Linked DNA regions of Homo sapiens: all the other regions are linked to region 1. The links come from fine-mapping of genetic effects on gene expression. A gene starts in region 1. Each other region holds a variant in brackets. All regions are shown on one strand. Distances are from middle to middle.

Region 1 (7,579 bases):
AATCCTGCTATTTGTAACAATACGGATGGACCTGGAGGACATTATGCTAAGTGAAATAAGCCAGACACAGAAAGATAAATACTACATGATACCACTTGTGCGATTAATCTAAAATAGCTAAACTCATAGAAGCAAAGAACAGAATGGTGGTTGCAGGAGGCTGCAGGCAGGGGGAAACAGGGAGGTACTGGGCAAAGAATACAAAGTTTCAGTTATACAAGATGAATAACTCCTAGAGACCTACTATACAGCACAGTGCCCAGAGTTAACAATACTGTATTGTATATTTAAAAATATGCTAAGAAGGTAGGTCTTATGTTAAGTGTTCTTATTGCTAATAGTAATAATAAGTAAGAAGGCAGGAGGAAACTTGAAGGTGATGGATAGGTTGATGGCATGGATCATGGTGATGGTTTCACAAGGGCATACTTATGTCCAAATTCATCAAGCTGTACACATTAAATGTGTAAAGCTTTTTGTACAAAAATAGTACAATGAACACCTGGATATCCTTCATTTAGATTTACCAGTTGTTTACATTTGGCTATATTTTCTTTCTGTTTTTACCAGAACTACTTGAAAGTTATTTGCAACACATTATAAAATCATTTCTAAATATTTCAACATGCATCTCCTAAGAATAACGACGTTATTCTACACACAACCATTGGCATTATTGCCATACCCATTAAAATGAGTAATCTCTTAATATTACCTAATATTCAGTCTATAGTCAAGTTTCCTTAACTATCAAATTTTTTTAAAAAGATCATATAGCTATTTAAAAATCCAGGATCCAACCAATGACCACACATTGAATTTGGCTGCCATGCCTCTCTTTAATCTACTTAACTTCAGAACAAGTCCCCAGTGTGTGGTTTTTCTTTTTTTTTTTGTTTTTGTTTTTTGGTCTTTTAGGACATTGACATACTTGAAGAAGTCTTCACATTTTTAAGCTTACCTCTACTTGCTTCCATCCTCACCCTTTCCAGTTTCTACTATCAGAAAAATGCCATAATAGTTCCTTTCTAAGTTTCTGGTACTCTCTCCCTCCCTCCCTTCAGAGGAAAGCTCCTTTGGGGGTTGGGGGGAGAAAGTAACACACTTTCTTGTTTCTCAGGTTTCCATTCATTTATTAACCTGTTGAAATCATATTTCTGCCTCCTCACTCCACCGACATTGCTTTCACTGAGGCCACAAATGGCTTTCTAAACGCCAAGTTCGAAGGACGTTTTTTTCAGTTATTACCTTATCTGACCTCTCTGCAGCAGCTGCTGTTGCTACCCCATTATCTATCTCCCTCAAGTGTACTCAAACCTTAACATAATTCTCTCGTTCTCTGCTGGTATCCACCAGTTATCCTTGACCTTCTTATTCCCTCCAACACTTTGACCACCAGCTATTGGTGATTCCCAAATCTCTTCTCCAGTCTACAACTCTCTCTAGGGTTCAAGACCCATTTATCTACCTGCCTACCAGACACGGTGATCCAAGTTTCCCATAGCTCCCTGTATGTAATGTGTCTATAACCCAACTTACTGTTTTCCCCTTCAACTCATTCCTCCCACTGCACCTCTTTTCTTAATGGAAACACTAATCCTCCAAATTTAAAAACTATTCTCCTCCTACCTCACTCCCACCAATGAAACTATCACTAAGTCCTCTTGATTCAGCCTCCTATATAATTCTCACATTCATCCCTTCCTCTCTACATTAACAGCACAGTTAAGGTCTTCAACATCTCTCCTATGGACCATCACAAAGATGTAGTTAATCTCTATACTTCCAGTTCTCCTCTTCCCCAATCCATTCTCTACCTTGTCCAGTTTTTTATTTTTATTTTCTGAGACAGGGTCTCACTCTTCGCTCAGGCTGGAGTGCAGTGACATGATCTCAGCTCACTGCAACCTCTGTCTCCTGGCTTCAAGAGATTCTCGTGCCTCAGCCTCTGGAGTAGCTGGGAGTACAGGCACGCGCCACCACACTCAGCTAATTTTTGTATTTTTCTGGTAAAAAATGGGTTTCACCATGTTGGCCAGGCTGGTCTTGAACTCCTGACCTCAAGTGATCCACCCACCTTAGCCTCCCAAAGTGCTAGGATTACAAGCGTGAGCCGCTGCACTCGGCCACTTATTTTTTTGAAACACAAATTGGCTCATGCTAAGCACCTTCCAAGACTCCCCATCCTCTGCAGGAGCAGTTTAGCATGGTGACTAAGAACACAGATACTGGAGTTGGAAAAAGCTGGATGCAAATTCTAGATTTTACCACTTACTGTGTGGCCATGAGACACTACTCATCCTCTCTAAGCCTCAGTTTTCATGTATAAAATGGGGATAATTATTTCTACCCCACAATGTTTTATTTCAGAGAATTATAAAATGATGTAACACATTTGTTCCAATAGCCAGACAAATTAAATACCTAATAACAATCATTTTAAGATAAAGTCCTAAGTCAAGCATGGTGGTTCATGCCTGTAATCCCAACACTGGGAGGCTGAGGTGGGAGGACTGCTTGAGCCCAGGACTTCCAAGACCAGCCTGGGTAACATAGCAAGACCCTGTATCTACAAAAAAAATAAAAATAAAAATTGGCCGAGTGTGGTGGTGCCTGCCTGTAGTCCCAGCTACTTGGGAAGCAGAGGTGAGGGGTAGCTTGAGCCCAGGAGTTCGAGGCTGCAGTGAACCGTAATAGCACCACTGTACTCCAACCTGGGTGATGGAATGAGATTCCTGTCTTTTTTAAAAGATAAAGTCCAAATTACTTACCATGGCCCTTTATGATCTGGTCACTGCCTACCTGTTCAGTTTCATTTCCCATCAATCCTTCTTCACATTCTACACTGTCATACTATTTCACATCTTTTTGCTTTTGCATACACAATTTCCTCTGCCTAAAAAGCCTAGTCTCCAGTGCTTTGTCCAATAAGTGAACTCTTTAAGACTCTGACCTCAGTTTTTGTCCTATGCACCTCTAGGGCTTGGCATTACATCTATTTTCCTGTCTACCTCCCACCCTAAATAGTGTTTCTTGAAAGCAGAGATAAATGGAGAAAACACAAAAAACTAAGAACAGACGTGGGAATTCACCTCAGATGTGGAATCAGATCAATGTTGAACAAATTTATAGAAAGGACCTAAAATTATCATTCCGAACTAATTGAATGTAACTCGTGGCTCATGGTTTATTCATTTTATGTTTTATTATTTTATTCATTTTTAAAAATGCAGAGGTCGGGAGCCTGAGGCAGGAGAATGGTGTGAACCGGGGAGGCGGAGCTTGCAGTGAGCAGAGATCACGCCACTGCACTCCAGCCTGGGCGACAGTGTGAGACTCCGTCTCAAAAAAAAAAAAACAAAAAAACGCAGAGGTAGCAACAATGTGATGAGGGTTTAAGGTTAGCAGGTTAGGAATCTAGCATTTGGACATTGTTTCTGGTGTGTGGAGTAGCTGTGGAGGAACAGGTATTCAAAGCAGGTCTTGAAAAATGCCTCAGTCCAAGGCAGAAAAGGTCTGACAGAAACAGGACCTCTTTCTGGTATGCAAGTTGGGCTACATGAACCTTTAGTCAAAACTTCAATGTAGCAGAATTGAATTTATTAGTTATTATTTTAAAGGCATGTTATTCCCTAGAGGGAAATTTTGACAACCCAAATTCAAATGAACGAATTTATTAAGGGAGAGACGTCTATAGAAGATCCCACCACAGGAACTACCAAATGAGCCATCAGAAAAGTCAGAATACTAAGTATCTGGAAGTAGTCTCTATTATAAAGTGATTTATGACTAAATACTTTAAAAGAAACATATTTGCGAATACAAAGGCTATGAGGGCTCTGAGACTAGAAAGTGTGGCCTGCACGGTTAACAGTCTTAAAATACTACAAAACACGACGCAGGCAAATTTCCTTCTACTAAGAGGTGATTACAAACAACTATTTTACTTGTGTCAAGAAACCAAGTCATATTTCTTTCTGAAATCCAAGATGCCAGGTTTATCACATACCAAGTACACATTTAAAGAAAAAAAATTATTGCCCCCTAACGATTATTAGAAAAAGATCTTTCAGAAGGGGGTGGGGAATCTACTCTTAATTTCTTAAAAATTCCGTCAAAAGGGCAGAAATCTGGACTTCATTAGCAACGCTCAAGTTATGGACACTGCTGTGATGCCTGAGAACCAAGTTCAAGCAAGGTCCACCTCGTTTTGCTCTCCCCGGCGGAGTCAAAGAAAGTGACAGATGTCTTAAGGGAGTCGACCCCGGGGGAGCTGCCAGGGGATGCTGTCAGTCTACAAAACTGGAGAGACTGAGAAAAGGGATCCGCGCTGGGATAGAGGGTGGTAGCAGCGGCGAGAAGCGGCTGCGCGAGGATGTCAGAGACGGGCGCGGCGAGGCTGTCACAGGGCGGCCTCCCCCCACCCAGCCTCGGGCCCCAGTCACTCACATGCGGGGCTCGCGCCCCTCGGGCTCCTCCCGCCTCGGGGACAGCTGCCGCCGGGCGAGGAGGATGGGCAACTTCCTGTTTCCGGGAGCGCGACCCGGAAGCAACCCCCCACTCCTGGGCGAGGCCTTGTACCCTAGAGTAATTCCTCCTCTCGTCCAGCGCTTCCGCCCAAAACAGAACACTCAGTGTCGTGGCGAGCGCGGGACCTCTCGCGATATCTGGAGAGTGTAGGTTCTTGCTCCCCCTGGCGTCCTTCTTCCGTTCTGGCTCTTTTCGCCCCAGTCCTAAATCCTTGTCTTCCTAATTTACCTGGACTGGCTCACACAGACTTCATAGCTGAACTGATCCATAGAACAAGCATTTACTGAGTCCCCTACTATGTGCCAGGCAGCATGTTAGGCATTAAGGGATGGGAGTGGAAGGGAAATGTAAATGAAGAGCAGCCCCTTCCTTCTGGAAGCTACTACTCTTGAGAAAGACGAACAAATCCCTCCAGTTTTCACTCAGCCCACTCATTAGTGAGAGCTTACTCTGTTGATAAAAGAAAAACTTAAGCCGAATTAAGTATAAAGGAGTTTAATTGAGCAATGGAAGATTCACGAATCAGGCAACCCCCAGAATCACAGCAGATTCACAGACTCCCAGGGTGCCTCATGGTCAGAACAAATTTATAGATAAAAAAGGCAAAGTGAGGCACAGGAATCGGAAGTAAGGTACAGAAACAGTGAGGTTGGTTACAGCTCGGTGTTTGCCTGATTTGAACGCAGATTGAACATTCAGCAGGCTGTGAGTGGTTGAAGTATGGCCGCTGGGATTGGCCACCACTCAGTTATTGTTACAGGTGTATACTATTAAGTTAGGTTTTCAATTTTGTTTGACTATTAAGCTATGTTACAGTTCATCCACAAGGACTCAAATATAGAAGGACAGAGTCCTTCTCAGGCCATATTTAGTTTGCCTTAACAATTCCCCCGTTTTGGTCATTTTCTCAATTTTGAGAGATTGACCAAAACCTTGGTCATTGATGTTATTATCGCTGTCATAAGTGTACCTGTATGGTTTTGAAACTCACTAGGAAACAGTAGAACAGTGGGTTTTGCAGGAAGAGAATAAGGGCTGAGTAGAGGATACCTCCTTATTCTGAAACATCTGTTTACAGGAGAAAAAACCTGGTCTGTTCTAGCATTTTGTGTTTTTTTAAAGCCTTGGTTTGATTATGTCACATTTAGCATGAGTGACTCCATTTTAGTTTGGTTTGGTTTGTTGGTGCCTAGTGCATGAGCTCAGTCCAAAATAATGGCCTCCCATGATTTTGTTTAAAAAAAAATTCCTCACTTTTGGCCAGGTTCTTACTTAGGTGACAGCGTGACCAGAACTTAGGGCCTTAGCGCCACTCTCAGTTACATCATTTTGGGTTTCTGGTCTCAGCATGTCATTCATAGGTTACGGTGCCTTCATGGTCACACATTTCTTTCAGTTTTTGTTATTCCAGTTGAAAAGAGATCATTTGACGTTGTAGAGATGGCTGCATGCAAGCATTTAAAATCTTTGAGAGAATACAGTGCACCAGGGAGACTATTATTATCATTATCGGGCGGATAATAGCAAGAGTTTGGAGTATGCTCCTTACCCAGGGTCCCCATAAGCCAAACCACCTAAAATTAAATAGATTGAAGAATGAGTTAGATGAAGAGTCTCCTTGCTTGACTAAGTGGTCTTTTCACTAATCCCCTACAACTGGATATTTATTTTTATTGTATTTATTTTGTGAGAGGGAGTCTTGCTCTGTCACCAAGGCTGGAATGCAGCGGCGATCTCAGCTCACTACAACCTCCACCTCCTAGGTTCAAGTGACTCTCCCGCCTCAGCCTATTGAGTAGCTGAGATTACAGGCACCTGCCACCACGCCAGGCTAATTTTCATATTTTTAGTAGAGACAGGGTTTTGCCATGTTGGCCAGGCTGCTCTCAAACTCCTGACCTCAGGGGATCCGCCTACCTCTGCCTCCCAAAGTGCTGAGGTTACGGGTGTCAGCCATCACGCCCGGCCAGAATTGTTTATAATTTACATTTGCTGTATTTCTCCATAGGCCACAGGTGTCAACAGCTGCACAGGTACTTTTCTGTTTAGCCAATTCTATTACTTAGTATAATTTTCAAAGGAGAATTTAAAGTCTGTTGTGTAACGATAGCCTTTAAAGTAGAATTTGCTGTAGAGCCTATTATGAGGGAGACATTTCAAATTATTGCCTCTTTTATTCTAAACCATGGAAAAAGGACCTAACAAATGGATGTCTTTCTAGAAGAGTGAAGGCCTCTTGTCAATGTTCTCTTTAATCCATGATGTGGGTTAAGAGGAGTTTTGACTGATTATGAGGCAATGTATGTACCACTAAAGTTTGTTACCTACATTGGGCCTTCATCTTTTATCTATTGAAATATAAGGTTATTCATGTTTAAGGCTGGCTGCAAAATCCTTCACAAATAAAAGTATACCCTATAAGTGCATATAATAGACCCACTTTTAATTTCTATTGTTCATAGAGGCATAAACAAGGAAAAAATATTCAAAGATAAGAGTCTTGTGATAGTAGAAGTTTTGATCTATGATCTTGGGAAAAGCTATTCTAATCAAGGATGCCATCTTCTGGGGAGAAACTTTTCTGGTTAGTTTTACCTTAAGGGTTCCAATGGATGTACAGTTCCAGGAGTGTGGAGGGACCCTTCTCAGCTGTGAGATTATGAACCCAAGGTTTAAAGCTCCAAAGTTTTGCTGTAGTGTGGATGGCAAGGACAGTCTTTCTCTTTCTCTGGTGTTCTCAGACGATCCAATCTGCAGGTTCTAGATTGTGAAGGGATTGTCCTCAGTGAATCATAAAAAGTTTTCTTTGTCTGGTGAAAATACACTATAATCTACTGTTATAACATCAGCCCTATTGCATGGGAAAGCTTTTATACAACCAGAAAACATGCATTGAAAATGACAATTCAGGCCGGGCGCGGTGGCTCACGCCTGTAATCCCAGCACTTTGGGAGGCCGAGGCGGGTGGATCATGAGGTCAGGAGATCGAGACCATCCTGGCTAACAAGGTGAAACCCCGTCTCTACTAAAAATACAAAAAAAATTAGCC
Region 2 (7,579 bases), 74 kb after region 1:
AGCAAACAAACAAACATACTGGGGACGGGAGAGGGGCTGTAATTCCTTGCTCGATTCTCTGTGCGACCCACAGAGGAAAGTATCAGGAATGGAGAATTAAAGAAAAATCCAGATTGTCTCTATGGAACCGCCTCTGGGATAGAAGACTGCCCTTGCAAGTAAACAGGAACCAGTTCCCACCACTCCTCCATCTAGTTCATTGCCCTTCAGGAACAAATCACCTCTCTGTTACCAGAATCTTGTCCGAGAAATAATAATCCTGTGGTCAGGGGAAGTCAAGTGCAGGCACAGCACTTTCTCTGTACGTGGGGTTTGCATGAGGCTGCAGATGAGCCAATCCTGGGAGGGATGAAATCTGCTCTCGTGGCCCCTGGCTGCCGGCTTTCAGCTGGTTTTAACCATTTGGGTCATTTTTATGCCTTCTGAGAAAGCTCCATCTTCCCAGCACCTAAATCTGTCACCACATTTCATGAAAATTGACTCAAGATGTAATTTTAGCCCAGAAAATCAAGCACTGTTTGCATCAAGTCCTGCCAGGGCCTTCTGCATGTCCAGTCAAATGCATTTGTCAGATGAGGCCTGAACTTGATGTCCAAAACCCTGGGTTTTCAGACCAGCTCTGATATTTACTGACTGTGTGACCTAGGTGAGTTATTTATCTTCTCAAGTCTCAGCTTACTAATCTATAAAATGGGGCTAAGAGACCTTCGTGGGTAGACTAACTAAGGCAGGATGGCCAGGTGGGAAGAGTCCCAGAAATGCTTCCACTGGGAAGAGGGACATGATAGGGAACCCCTCTAGGTTTCCCATTTGAAAAGTGGGTATGGAGATCCCTGCCCCTCCCTCACCAGGCAGCTGTCTTGGCTGAGGGCCTCTTGGAAAAGAAATGGGAATCACAGAATCTTAGGGTGTCCAGCAGATCGCCCCATACCACTGCAGTCATTGGCCCCAGCCACCACACCCACATGTCCCTGCCAAAGCACTCAGTCTCTTTTTTGAGGAGAATTAGCCTGTTAAACTTTTCACCAGCAGCTGAAATTGATGGTTCATCTCTAAATATTCTGAATGATCTTCCTCGGGGCAACTTGACATGTGTCTTCACATAACCTCTGTGAGCATGTGTTGGGCACTGTCTTAGTCTGTTCAGGTTGCTATAACAAAAATACCATAAACTGGGTAGCTTATAACCAACAGAAATTTATTTACACAGTTCTGGAGGCCAGGAAGTCCAATATCAAGGCACCAGCAAATTCAATGTCTGGTGAGGGCCAGTTCCATCTTGCTGTGTCCTCACATGGTGGGAGGGATGAACACACTCTAAGCCCATTCATGAGGGCTCTGCCCTCCTGACCTAATCACCTCCCCAAAGCCTCACCTCTGAATAGCATCACAATGAAATAAGAATTTCAACGTGAATTTCAGAGGGACACAAACATTCAGACTACAGCAGGCACCTACTATGTGCTGGGGGATGAATGCTGGGGGTGCAAAGGGGGACCAGACACTGCCTACAACCAGAGGAGCTCACTTTCAACCCAGGGAGATGACACCAATCACAGTAATGATAATGGCAAACACATGACAGCAATGTGCAGACACTGTTCTGTTCTTTTTTTTTGTTCTTTTTTTTTTTTTTGAGACAGAGTCTTGCTATGTCGCCCAGGCTGGAGTACAATGGCACGATCACTGCTCACTGCAAACTCCACCTCCCGGGTTCAAGTGATTCTCCTGCCTCAGCCTCCTGAGTAGCTGGGATTACAGGCGTGCACCACCACGCCCGACTAATTTTCTATTTTTAGTAGAGATGGGGTTGGTTTCAGGCTGGTCTTGAACTCCTGACCTCCAGTGATCCACCTGCCTTGGCCTCCCAAAGTGCTGGGAATACAGGCGTGAGCCACCGCACCTGGCCATAGACACTGTTCTAAGTACTTTACCTGCATTAACTCAATGAATCCTCACAACAATCCTATGAAGGAGGTATTATTATTATTATTGGCCCCATTTGACAGAGGAGGAAACTGAAGCTTTTCATATCACTGTTTTCTGTCCCTTTACCAACCTGAGCACCCTCCTGGACAGCATGTGTCCCCGCCATCCCCTTCTGCAGCCCAGAGCATCATGGGCTGGCTTCCTCCACACAGGGGCTTGCCTTAGATCATCACGCTCCTCCCTGCTGGCCTCTGCATTCTGTGTCTGCTTCTGAGGATTACACATCTAGCGACACTATCTAATATGCCACTGATCTTTTGGCAGGTGTTTTTGACTTAATTCGTACTGAGTTTGGGGACTTCTGTGTCTTTCTCCATGAGTTGCTGTCCAAATAGCTTTGCCAATTTCCCTACCTCAGAGTTGGCAATGAGTTTTTGAACCTAAATCTGTGATTTCACATTTATTGCCATCATGTGTCGTTTGTTGGATTCAGTCCGTTGTTACAGTTTATGGAGACCATGTTGAATTACGATCTTGCATTCAGCATCTTGGTTATGCCTCTTGGTCCTGGGTCAGCTGTAGTCCTCACCGACACAGGTGACAAGGAATTGAATGGGATGGAGTACTGCGTTCCTCCACTAGAGATCTTTTCCCAGATTGACTTCAGTTTTTTAATTGACCTTTGGGGTAGGCCGTTCAGCCACCTATGTGCTATATTTTCCCATCTGGTCCCTAAAGACATCATGAATAACAGTCAAATGCATTTGTCAGATGAGGCCTGAACTTGATGTCCAAAACTCTGGGTTTTCATACCAGCTCTGATATTTACTAACTGTATGACCTAGGTGAGTTATTTATCTTCTCAAGTCTCAGCTTACTAATCGATAAAAAGGGGCTAAGAGACCTTTGTGGGTAGACTAACTAAGGTAATGCTTATGAAAATGCCTGGAAATATTAACCGCAATCTACCATTGACCTGGGCACTCCATCACAGTGGGAGAGGCCGCCCTTGGAGATCCTGTGAACCAAGCCAAACTTGGTGGCACTGGAGCTGAGTCTTGAGTGGTGCCATGCATCATTCTGGGGGGCAGGGTGTTGCAGGTGGAGGGAACAGCAAGTGCAAAGGCCCTGAGGTGGGAACAAGCTTACTGTATTTCAAGGACAAAAAGAAGGCTGGTGTAGTTTGAGTGGTGTGAACAATTAAGAAAGTGGACAATACGGTCACAGAGGTCATCAGGTTCAGATCCTGTAGGGCTTCAGAGGCCATATAAAGAGTTCTGATACTGATCTAAGTGTGATGCTAAGCTACTTGAGGGTTTTATTTTGTTTTGTTTGAGATGGAGTCTTGCTCCATTGCCCAGGCTGGAGTGCAATGGCTCGATCTCAGCTCACTGAAACCTCTGCCTCCCGGGTTCAAGTGATTCTCCTGCCTCACCCTCCCAAGTAGCTGGGACTACAGGCATGCGCCACCATGCCTGGCTAATTTTTGTATTTTTAGTAGAGGCAGAGTTTCACCATGTTGAGCAGGCTGGTCTTGAACTCCTGACCTCAGGTGATCCTCCCTCCTAAACCTCCCAAAATGCTGGGATTACAGGCGTGGGCCACCACACCTGGCCTATTTAAGGGTTTTAAGCAGGGGAGTGATGCAACCTGGTTTATGTTTCAGAAAGACAGCCCTGGCCACTGTGTGCAGAGTGGACTGCAGGGGAAAGGGCAGAAGCAGGAAGATAATTTGCAGTCTTGTGGAGGTTTTGGAATAAGACTGTGGTGGGCATGAACACAGGGGATCCAGTTCGTTCAATGCCAAGAGTTTAAATCTGAAAAGAAATAACCCTCTGCCTGCCTGGCCTTGAGCCCAATTTAGGATCCCTGGTGACCTGGCCTTGGTCATTCCACATAGACCATTATCTAAAGATACAAAGGAATGAGTGGACCATCAGCATTGCTAAGGCACAAAGCGGAAGGCAGGCCTCTCTAAGAGGTGGACTCCAAGGCAAGCTTGGGGTAGGCTTTCTGGACTCTCTCCTTTTTGCAGAGAAGTCTGCCTCTGCAAAGAGAGGTCCCTCCTGAGCCTTAGGTCACTTGGAAAGCCTTTAGTGGCCTTTGCTCTTGTCATGCAGCTGAATTTTCAGGGCTCTGACTCCCCGTGATCAGGGTTAGGCAGTCCAGGACCAAAGCTTTACTTTAGGGACTAGATGGGTCTATGGCCACCTACTCACAGTCTTAGGGTCAGGGCTTTAAAACCTGCTTTGACACAGTGAGGTGCTGTCTGGGATGTCCCTTTGAATCCTGACTTTGCCACTTTCCTTAACCTCTCTCTGAGCCTTAGTTTTTTTCATCAATAAAATGGGTTCCCAATGCCTGCTTAGTGGACTGTGGTAGGGACCACATGGCAGAATCACTTAGCAGTGCCTGCCTGTGCTCAGGACCTGTAAATATTCTTTTTATTATTAAACAGTACCATCAGGCAAGCTGTAAAGAGGCTCTATCCCTTTCCT[T/G]CCCCTCCTTAAATAAGAGGGTGACTGATATGCCTTCTACCCTGTACAGTCTCCACATCAGCAGCACCCCATTATCTCCCTTGGCCCTCACCACACCCAGATGAGGAAGCAGAGCTCAGAGGGATCCTGGCTTTGCCCAGCAACACAGCTAGGAAGTGGCAGAGCTGGGATGTGAATGTGGTTTTCCGAGTCGGAGTCCCTGGTCTTCTCCTCTGCCCAGGCCACTGACTTTCAAAGTGGGCTTTTCTTGTTTGTTTGTTTTTGAGACGGAGTCTCACTCTGTCGCCCAGGCTGGAGTGTGGTGACACAATCTCGGCTCACTGCAACCTCCACCTCCTGGGTCCAAGCAATTCTCCTGCCTCAGCCTCCCGAGTAACTAGGATTACAGGCATATGCCACCACCCCCAGCTAATTTTTGTATTTTTCGTAGAGATGGGGTTTCACCATGTTGGCCAGGCTGGTCTCAAATTCCTGAGCTCAGGAGATCCGCCCACCTCGGCCTCCCAAAGTGCTGGGATTACAGTCATGAGCCACTGCGCCCAGCCCAAAGTGTGCTTTTCTATCCCCAGGATTTGAGGGTGGCAGCTCCAGGATCCACCGTGAATATGTGTGTAGCCCCTGCCTCCCTTTCCTCCTTCAAGCAGAGGTGTTCATTATTTCTGTGTAATACATTAGACATGAGCCTGAGATTTCATTTGAAGAAAGGAGTTGGCTTTTCTAATAAACCCTGAGTTCTAGGCCAGGTCCCCTGGTGGCTGATAGATCTATTTGCTTTTCAGTGTTAGTGTCCAGGTGCACTCTACAGTTGTGGCTGAGCTGTTGAAAGTGTGCACTCCAAAGTCAAGTTTAAAAATGGGCCCACCACCTGCCCAGGTGGGGGATCTTGGCCAAGCACTTAGGCTCACAAGCCTACTGTGAGGAGTAAATAAGCTAATTCGTGTAAAGTGCCTGGCCTGCAGAAAAAGCTCAATAATGGCTCTTCTTATAAGAAGCCCTAAGTAAGAAACCAATGCTTTATCTGGAGGAAGGAACCATTGACAGTATCATTTCAGACATCGTGATGCCATTTGGCAGGAGCTATCGATGTTTTGGAGTGAGCTGGGGGACAAGTCCCAGGGCCCCCTCCATGATGCTTGGCTTCCTTTAGGGTGGGGACTGCTCAGGCCCCCCACCCTCTACAGTCAGACCCGGGGCTAGAAGGCTGGGGGTGGGGACAAGGTGGTGGAGAGTGTTTTGTTGGCAGCTTGGCAGCCAGGCTCATTGGTAAAGGGTCGTTCCCCGTTCCCCGAGGAGCTGGGATGATTGAACAGATTATCTGAAACAATGGCTAATTAGGAACTAAGCTTTTTGGCAGGAAGTCTTTCATTCTAAGCTTGGTAAAGTTTCATACCCTGACCCTGGTCTCTGGGCGAGATAGGGAGGCTTCTCTGACCAGGCTTGAGAACAGGGAGGCCTTTAGAGCCTGGGCTTCCCTAACTCAGGGCCCCTGTCTCCACCTCTGCCCTGCCTTACCTGGAAGCCTTAACAAAACAGGCAGCCATTTGGGAGGTCACCAGGCCTACGAAACGAAAGGTGCCAAGGTCATGGCTCACTCCCTGTAATTTTAGGCAAGCCCCATCTCTCTCTGGGCCTGGTTTTCCTCACTGCAACGAGGAGGGGTGGCCACAGAATTCTGGACTCCTTCAGTGACAGAACCAGAGAGAACTTTCCAGACCCAAGATGGTGCAGGCCTGGCATGGCCAGATCCTCCGTGCTCCTCCGCCTCCCCAGGCCCTCCTTTCCTGTCCCCAGATCTCAGGCCACTCTTCCCAGCCACTGGGCGCCCCCACCTGGCTCCTATTCCCAGGGCCAGCCTTGGAAAGCACATTCCCTTTTTCCGTTTCTATTTGAGTCAGGTAGCTTTCTGGCCTCTAATTTTAATCCTAGTGAACATGATTCATGAGGGGCCAGGGCTGGGCTCTGCAGCGAGGCTTTTAGAATCCCCAATTAAGGAGCCATCAATAATATATGAAAAGTATTGAGGGATCTACGGCTGGGGAAGGGTGAGCAGCTTGTGAGGTAGACAGCAGTCTGTCAGCTCCAGCCTCCTATCCCACCGGCACAGCCCCTGGGGGCTTTGCAGCTGGGGGATGGCTCCGAAGCTCAATCCAGCTGTAATTTGTAAAAAGGCAAGAGCTGCCTAAATCCAGGGCCATGAAGATTGTTCAGGCTTGCAGAGAGCCACCCACGCATGCCTGAGGTAGGGGCTGTGGTGAGCACCAGGGATGCTCTGCCTTTCTCACTCCTGAGAGTCCCGGCCCTTCCTCGCCCACCATGGGTTGCCTCTGGGAGGGCTTCTCTGGCCTCCAAGAGCTCCGTTCTTTCATCGGTAAAGTGGAGATGATAATAATTTCATTGTCACGGGGTCATTGGAGGGGGTTAAATGAGATCGTGGATGTATGGAAGTGTTTCAAAGTTGAGAAGTCAGGATACCAAGCAGAAGGAGGAGGAGGAGGATCGGGTGGAAGGGAGAAACCTGAGCAGGGATGTCCACAGGCTTCTGGGTGAACCAGGGCTCCACTCAGCGCTGGGAGCCCCACTGGCTGGGGTACCCGTCAGCATCCATTTCCTAATGAGCTGTGTGACCGTGGTCAGAACAGCCCCCCTCCCACCTTCTCTGCCTTTGTTTTCTCATGTGTTAATTGAGAGGATTTGGTTTCTTCCAGCTCTAAAATCAGGTCCTAAGTCAATTTGATTTTTTTTTTGGTTGTTGTTTTGGCTTTTTGTTGTTGTTGTTTGTTTTTTTGTTTTTGAGACAGCGTCGTGCTCTGTCGCCCAGGCTGGAGTGCAGTGGCACAATCACGGCTCACTGCAGCCTCAATCTCCTGGGCTCAATTGACCCTTCTGCCTCAGCCTCCCAAGTAGCTGGGACTACAGACGTGTGCTTCCATGCCTGGCTAATTTTCTTATTTTTTGTGGAGATGGGATCTCACTATGTTGCCCAGGTTGGTCTCGAACTCCTAGGTTCAAGCGATCCTCCTGCCTCCCAAAGTGCTGCCCAACTTGTTAACATTTTTAAAAGGAAATCACAGGAGGGTTGAGGACTCTTTCTCTCCTCCTCCTCTCTCTCTCTCAATCTCTCTCTCTCTCTGTCTCTCCCTTCCTCTCTCTCT
Region 3 (6,636 bases), 58 kb before region 1:
CTGCATGGTCCCAGCACGAGTGAGTGTGGGTGTGTGAGCACCATGTCCTGTCCAGGGTAGGTTCCCACCTGGCATCCTGAGCTGCCAGGATGGGCTCCAGCCACCCACGACCCTGAACTGGAATAATTGGGTAAATAATTATCTTGTTTTTCTTTCTTTCTTCTTTCTTTCTCTTTCTTTCTTTTTTCTTTCTCTCTCTCTCTCTCTCTCTTTCTTTCTTTCTTTCGAGAGAGTGTCTCGCTCTGTCACCCAGGCTGGAGTGCAGTGGCACAATCTCAGCTCACTGCAACCGCCACCTCCTGGGTTCAAGTGATTCTTGTGCCTCAGCCTCCTGAGTAGCTGGATTACAGGTGCCCACCACCACAGTCAGCTAACTTTTGTATTTTTAGTAGAGATGAGGTTTCACCAAGATGGCCAGGCCGGTCTCGAACTCCTGACCTCAGGTGATCCACCCACCTGGGCCTTGCAAAGTGCTGGGATTACAGGCGTAAGCCAGTGCACCTGGCCTAATTATCTTGTTTTTCTTAATTTTTCTTAAATGTATGTATAGCTTACATTCATTTCAGTGTTTAATATTAGAAGTGTTTTGATCTTTAGAAGTTTGGTGATGTTTTTGTCACCAGAAATATGTCACAGGAATTCTATTCATTTATATCAATTAGCCTATGGTAAAATTGGTTTTGTTTCCCTTAAAGTTGCAGTTTCCAAGAGTCTATCAGCAACTTAAGTGAGAACTTACTGTATTTGTTATTATATATCTTCCACCTGTTATATATAACAGGTGGAAAAGTTTGCATAGCCTGAGGCTATAGCAAAGAAAAAAAATACAGCAACCTGACTTGGCTTTTACCCTGGGGAGGACTGCCTTGGCCTGGGAGAGCTCCTAGGTAGAAAGGGAGGACACACCCCTCTCTGAGGGACAGGGGCACTGGTTGAGTGTTGCCAGGATGTGGGCTGGGGAGGCCTCCTGGGAAGGGCATTTGGTTGGAAGCAGAGACACCTGGCTTGCCTGAGAGGGTTGGGTGAGATGGGAATGAAGACTGGGAGGCTGACCAGAGCCAGCCAGCGCATGTGGGGACCCAGGTGTGCAGACAGAGTCCACTCTGCGTGTGCACACTTATACGTGGTTCACAGAGCTTCTCCCATTTGAGTGACCTCACCCACTCCTCACAGGATAGCTCTCCAAGGTGAGTCTCACTGTCACCCCGCATAAGGAGACTGATGCTCAGAAAGGTAAGTGATTTCCCCAGTATAGGTCGGGGAGGGTCTGGAATAGTGACAAAGTGGTGGGACCAGAGCCAGGGACCTGCCACTAGGAAAAGAGGGCAGTTAAGGCAAGCACATGGAGGAGAGAGAGGAATGGAAGAGGTGAAGTTAGGGGAGGGTGAGAGGGAGAAAGAGAAGGCAGCATCAGAGTAGACGGTGTGTTTTATCCATAAACCCAGACTTGGGGAAAATAGATTTTCTTCTGTATTATTATTTCTGTATATTTTAAATCAAGTTTTATTTTGAACAGCAGTATAACTCCATAACAAAAAAATAAGCCAAAAAGGAAAAAAAAATAATTCCATCTCTGGCATTTGCTTCTCGTCTGAGCAGGTGGTCCACAGCCACTCAAAGTGTGGTCCACGGCCCGGTGCTGGTCTGCCAGAGATTCGCCACTGTTTTTCAGCACAACAGGCCCAGAAAATGAGAGTAAATGTTTAGAAACTCTTACAGCAATTGGACATGGTTGTTTTCTGCCTGTTGAATCTATGATTTAAAAGTTGGGCTTGTATTTCATGTATCTGCTTTTCATTTCATTTTTATTATTTATTTATTTTATTATTTTTTTTTGAGACCAAGTCTCGCTCTGTCACCCAGGCTAGAGTGCAGTGTCACAATCTCTGCTCACTGCAACCTCTGCCTCCCCGGTTCAAGCAATTCTCCTGCCTCAGCCTCCCGAGTAGCTAGGATTACAGGGGTGTAACACCACGCCCAGCTAATTTTTGTATTTTTAGTAGAGACGGGGTTTCACCATGTTGGCTAGTCTGTTCTCGAACTCCTGACCTCAGGTGATCTGCACCTGCACCGTCTTAGCCTCCCAAAGAGCTGGGATTACAGGCATGAGCCACCAAGCCTGGCCTGATAACTTTTTATTTTGAAATAATAATAGACTCACAGGAAATCACGAAAAAAGTACGTAAAATCCCATGAGCTGTTTACCCAGATTCTTCCAATGATGACATCTTATATAACAATAATACAATACCCAAACCAGGAAATGGACATTCATTTTCCTAATAGGTAATGATTTTGAACATCTTTTCCTGTGTTTTCTGCAACCCACATATCCTCTTTGGTGGACTGTCTGTTCGTGTCTTCTAGTTCTATTTGGATTTTTTTTCTGTTGAGTTTTGAGAGTTCTTTATGTATTTTAGATACAAGTCCTTTGATGGATATACATTTAATCATTTATTTTTACGATATTTTACAAAACTTTACATTTGGGATGGATTGGAAATTTTATAAAATCAAACTGGTCAATCACCACTGACAGTTTGAGAAGCAATCTTAGCATCTTCTTGCCTTAATGAAACAACCGCACCTGCACCATATTGAGTCCTGACTTTTTTCCCCAGATAATTTATTATAAATAATTTCTCCAACTTGCTCCATATCTTTATAACCACCACTTACAAGGTTTGCACACCTTCCATAGAGCAGCTGTACTGAGATTTACTCAGCCAATTCCCAAGGTTAGACATGACGTTATCACCCATTTCAGGGTCTTAGAGAAACTCTGAGTCACTCACCTTTGGTCACAAGGCTTTCTCAAACATTTTGGATAGAATGTTCTTAGTTTCCATTCTCACCATTATAGTTCAACTTGCTCTTTCATTAGAATTTAGGCATCAAGGTCAGACCAGATTGCTGGTTGGCCACATTCTGTGTTCTCATGGAAACAAAAGATCAGCGGCACTGAATCCAAACCACCCGAGCAACCCGGCTTTTCCAGTCCCAGATGCTTGA[T/C]GGCACGGCAACAGTGGAGTCACTAAGAAATTTTACTTTAGTTCTATCACAGCAAACTCCAAACCAGGGGTAGCAGTCATCTGAAAAATGCAGAGACTATTTTAAAGGACAGACAAGTGCCTCAGATAGCATCAGAGAACAATGCCTAAGGTGCATGGATGGAAGCCAGTCTGCACAAAATGCTGAAAATAGGTCGTTCTGAGCAAGGGGGTCATGGAGAAGAAAGTACCAGCCCTCCATTCCTTACGCCCACTAGGCAGGTGCCTCTTCCCCTGCACCCAGGCTGACCCCTCACCTGGAAACTGACCCCTTCTCGGGTTTTCACACCTGTCTTGGACTTCCCCTTCTCCCTCCCTCCTTCCCTTTTTCTTTCTTTATTTTCTTTCTCTTTCTTTCTTTCCTTTTTTTTTTTTTTTTTTTTTTGAGATGGAGTCTCACTCTGTCACCAGGCTGCAGTGCAGTGGTGTGATCTTGGCCCACTGCAACCTCCACCTCCCGGGTTCAAGCGATTCTCCTGCCTCAGCCTCCCGAGTAGCTAGGACTACAGGCGCACATGACCATGTCCAGCTAATTTTTGTATTTTTAGTGACAGACAGGATTTCACCATGTTGGCCAGGATGGCCTCTATCTCTTGACCTCGTGATCCGCACGCCTCGGCCTCCCAAAGTGCTGGGATTACAGGCGTGAGCCACTGCGCCTGGCTCTTCTCTTTCTTTTCTTTTCCTTCCTTCCTTCCTTCCTCTTTTCTTTCTTTCTTTCTTTTTCTTTTTTTTTTTTGAGACAGAGTCTCGCTCTGTCGCCCAGGCCGGAGTGCAGGGGCGCGATCTTGGCTCCTGCAACCTCCACCTCCTGGGTTCACGCCATTCTCCTGCCTCAGCCTCTCCGAGTAGCTGGGACTACAGGCGCCAGCCACCACACCCGGCTAATTTTTTGTATTTTTAGTAGAGACGGGGTTTCACTGTGGTCTCAATCTCCTGACCTTGTGATCTGCCTGCCTCAGCCTCCCAAAGTGCTGGGATTACAGGCGTGAGCCACCGCTCCCGGCCCTTCCTTCCTTCTTTCTCTCTTTCTCTTTCTTCTTTTCCTTCCTTCCTTTCATTCTTTCCTTCTTTTTCTCCTCTTTCTCTCTCTCACTGTTTCCTTCTTTCTGTTTTCTTTTTCTCTCTTTTTTCTTTCTCTCTCTTTCTTTGGTTTGTTCTTTTTTTTTTTTTTTATTCCTGAGATGCATCCAAATTGGTATCTTTATTCTTTTCCCTTGCTATACAGTATTGCATTGTGTGACTATACTACATTCTTTAAAATTTCTTGTTGATTATACCTTTCTTCTTTAGTGCTGAAGCCAGTTCTGAATGATTACACTTTTATAAAAATTCTTGTGCAGCTCTTACTACACAAGGGCAAGAGTCTCTAGGGTATTTATCTAAATGCACAAAAGCAGAATTGTGCGGGGATAAGAGGTTATGGGCACCTTCAACTTACTAGGTGATGCGTGTTTTTCCAAATCGCACCCCTAGCCAGGAGTGTGTGAAGTGAGTTCTCATTGCTCCATATCCTTAGCAACACTTGTTATTGCCATTTTTTCTAACTTCTGATGACCTGGTGGTTACAAAATGATTGAATTGTAAATTTCAGTGATTTGTTTCTAGGCATACCTTTAGTAACTTTAAATATTTTTTTCAAAGTCTTTCTCTCTAGTTTTAAACAGTTCTCTTTATTTTTAAATTGTCCTAGGCTTACTTTTATATTGTTTTTTTAGATTTTGTTTTATCTGAAATTCTTGGTTTTAGCCATCCTATTGTGTCTATTAATTCTCATACTAGAGGATATCCTTTTGTGTTTTATAATTTTTTATTGCCTGCTTATTTCGGTGGTATTGTATCTGATAGAATCCTCTGTAGCCAAAGGTGCTATGTGGTTTGTGTTTCATTTTGTTTTTGAGACGAGATTTCACTCTGTTACCCAGGCTAGAGTACAGGGGTGTGATCATGGCTCACTGCAGCCTTCAACTCCTGGGCTCAGCCTCCCAGTTAGGCAGGATTAGAGACATTCATCATTATGCCCAGCTAATTTTTTAAAAAAAAATTATAGAGATGGGGTTTTGCTATGTTGCCCAGGCTGGTCTTGAACTTCTGGGCTCAAGTTACCCTCCTGCCTCAGCCTCCCAAAGTGTGGGATTACAGGCATGAGTCACCATGCTGGGACTAGTGCTATGTTCTTTCTCTAGGGTGTTTTTTCTTTTTCTTTTTTTTCTTTTTTTAATTGATCATTCTTGGGTGTTTCTCGCAGAGGGGGATTTGGCAGGGTCATAGGACAATAGTGGAGGGAAGGTCAGCAGATAAACAAGTGAACAAAGGTCTCTGGTTTTCCTAGGCAGAGGACCCTGGGGTCTTCCGCAGTGTTTGTGTCCCTGGGTACTTGAGATTAGGGAGTGGTGATGACTCTTAACGAGCATGCTGCCTTCAAGCATCTGTTTAACAAAGCACATCTTGCACCGCCCTTAATCCATTTAACCCTGAGTGGACACAGCACATGTTTCAGAGAGCACCGGGTTGGGGGTAAGGTCATAGATCAACAGCATCCCAAGGCAGAAGAATTTTTCTTAGTACAGAACAAAATGGAGTCTCCCATGTCTACTTCTTTCTACACAGACACAGTAACAACCTGATCTCTCTTTCTTTTCCCCACATTTCCCCCTTTTCTATTCGACAAAACCACCATTGTCATCATGGCCCGTTCTCAATGAGCTGTTGGGTACACCTCCCAGAAGGGGTGGCGGCGGGGCAGAGGGGCTCCTCACTTCCCAGAAGGGGCGGCCGGGCAGAGGCGCCCCCCACCTCCCGGATGGGGCGGCGGCCGGGCGGAGGCGCCCCCCACCTCCCGGACGGGGCGGCTGGCCGGGCGGTGGCTGCCCCCCACCTCCCTCCCGGACGGGGCGGCTGGCCGGGCGGAGACGCTCCTCACTTCCCAGACGGGGCGGCTGCCGGGCGGAGGGGCTCCTCACTTCTCAGACGGGGCGGCTGCCGGGCAGAGACGCTCCTCACCTCCCAGACGGGGTCGTGGCTGGGCAGAGGCGCTCCTCACATCCCAGACTGGGCGGCGGGGCAGAGGCGCTCCCCACATCTCAGACAATGGGCGGCCGGGCAGAGACGCTCCTCACTTCCTAGACGGGATGGCGGCTGGGAAGAGGCGCTCCTCACTTCCCAGACTGGGCAGCCAGGCAGAGGGGCTCCTCACATCCCAGACGATGGGTGGCCAGGCAGAGATGCTCCTCACTTCCCAGACGGGGTGGCAGCCGGGCAGAGGCTGCAATCTCGGCACTTTGGGGGGCCAAGGCAGGCAGCTGGGAAGTGGAGGTTGTAGCGAGCTGAGATCACGCCACTGCACTCCAGCCTGGGCAACATTGAGCACTGAGTGAATGAGACTCCATCTGCAATCCCGGCACCTCGGGAGGCCGAGGCTGGCAGATCACTCGCGGTTAGGAGCTGGAGACTAGCCCGGCCAACACAGTGAAACCCCGTCTCCACCAAAGAAATACTAAAACCAGTCAGGCGTGGCGGCGCGCGCCTGCAATTGCAGGCACTCGGCAGGCTGAGGCAGGAGAATCAGGCAGGGAGGTTGCAGTGA

What was found. PIP is the estimated chance that this variant, and not a neighbour inherited with it, causes the effect. A credible set is the group of variants that fine-mapping cannot tell apart.
Region 2: its variant is the best candidate, but not a certain one, in a credible set for the expression of C6orf89 in atrial appendage (GTEx, PIP 0.57).
Region 3: its variant is the best candidate, but not a certain one, in a credible set for the expression of C6orf89 in adrenal gland (GTEx, PIP 0.81).

The regions. Positions count from the first base shown.
Region 1 is chr6:36,882,899-36,890,477 of GRCh38, reverse strand. C6orf89 (chromosome 6 open reading frame 89) reads right to left here and starts at 4,526. Exons shown (of 9, transcript NM_001286635.2): 1 at 4,450-4,526. RefSeq lists a silencer at 4,287-4,466 and an enhancer at 4,687-4,766.
Region 2 is chr6:36,809,215-36,816,793 of GRCh38, reverse strand. All of the region lies in intron 3 of CPNE5 (copine 5), which reads left to right. Among named protein-coding and RNA genes, the nearest start is that of CPNE5, 26 kb to the left of the region's middle. RefSeq lists a silencer at 5,602-5,770. The variant T/G (reference allele first, on the strand shown) is at 4,428.
Region 3 is chr6:36,941,104-36,947,739 of GRCh38, reverse strand. No RefSeq gene overlaps it. Among named protein-coding and RNA genes, the nearest start is that of PI16, 10 kb to the left of the region's middle. The variant T/C (reference allele first, on the strand shown) is at 3,013.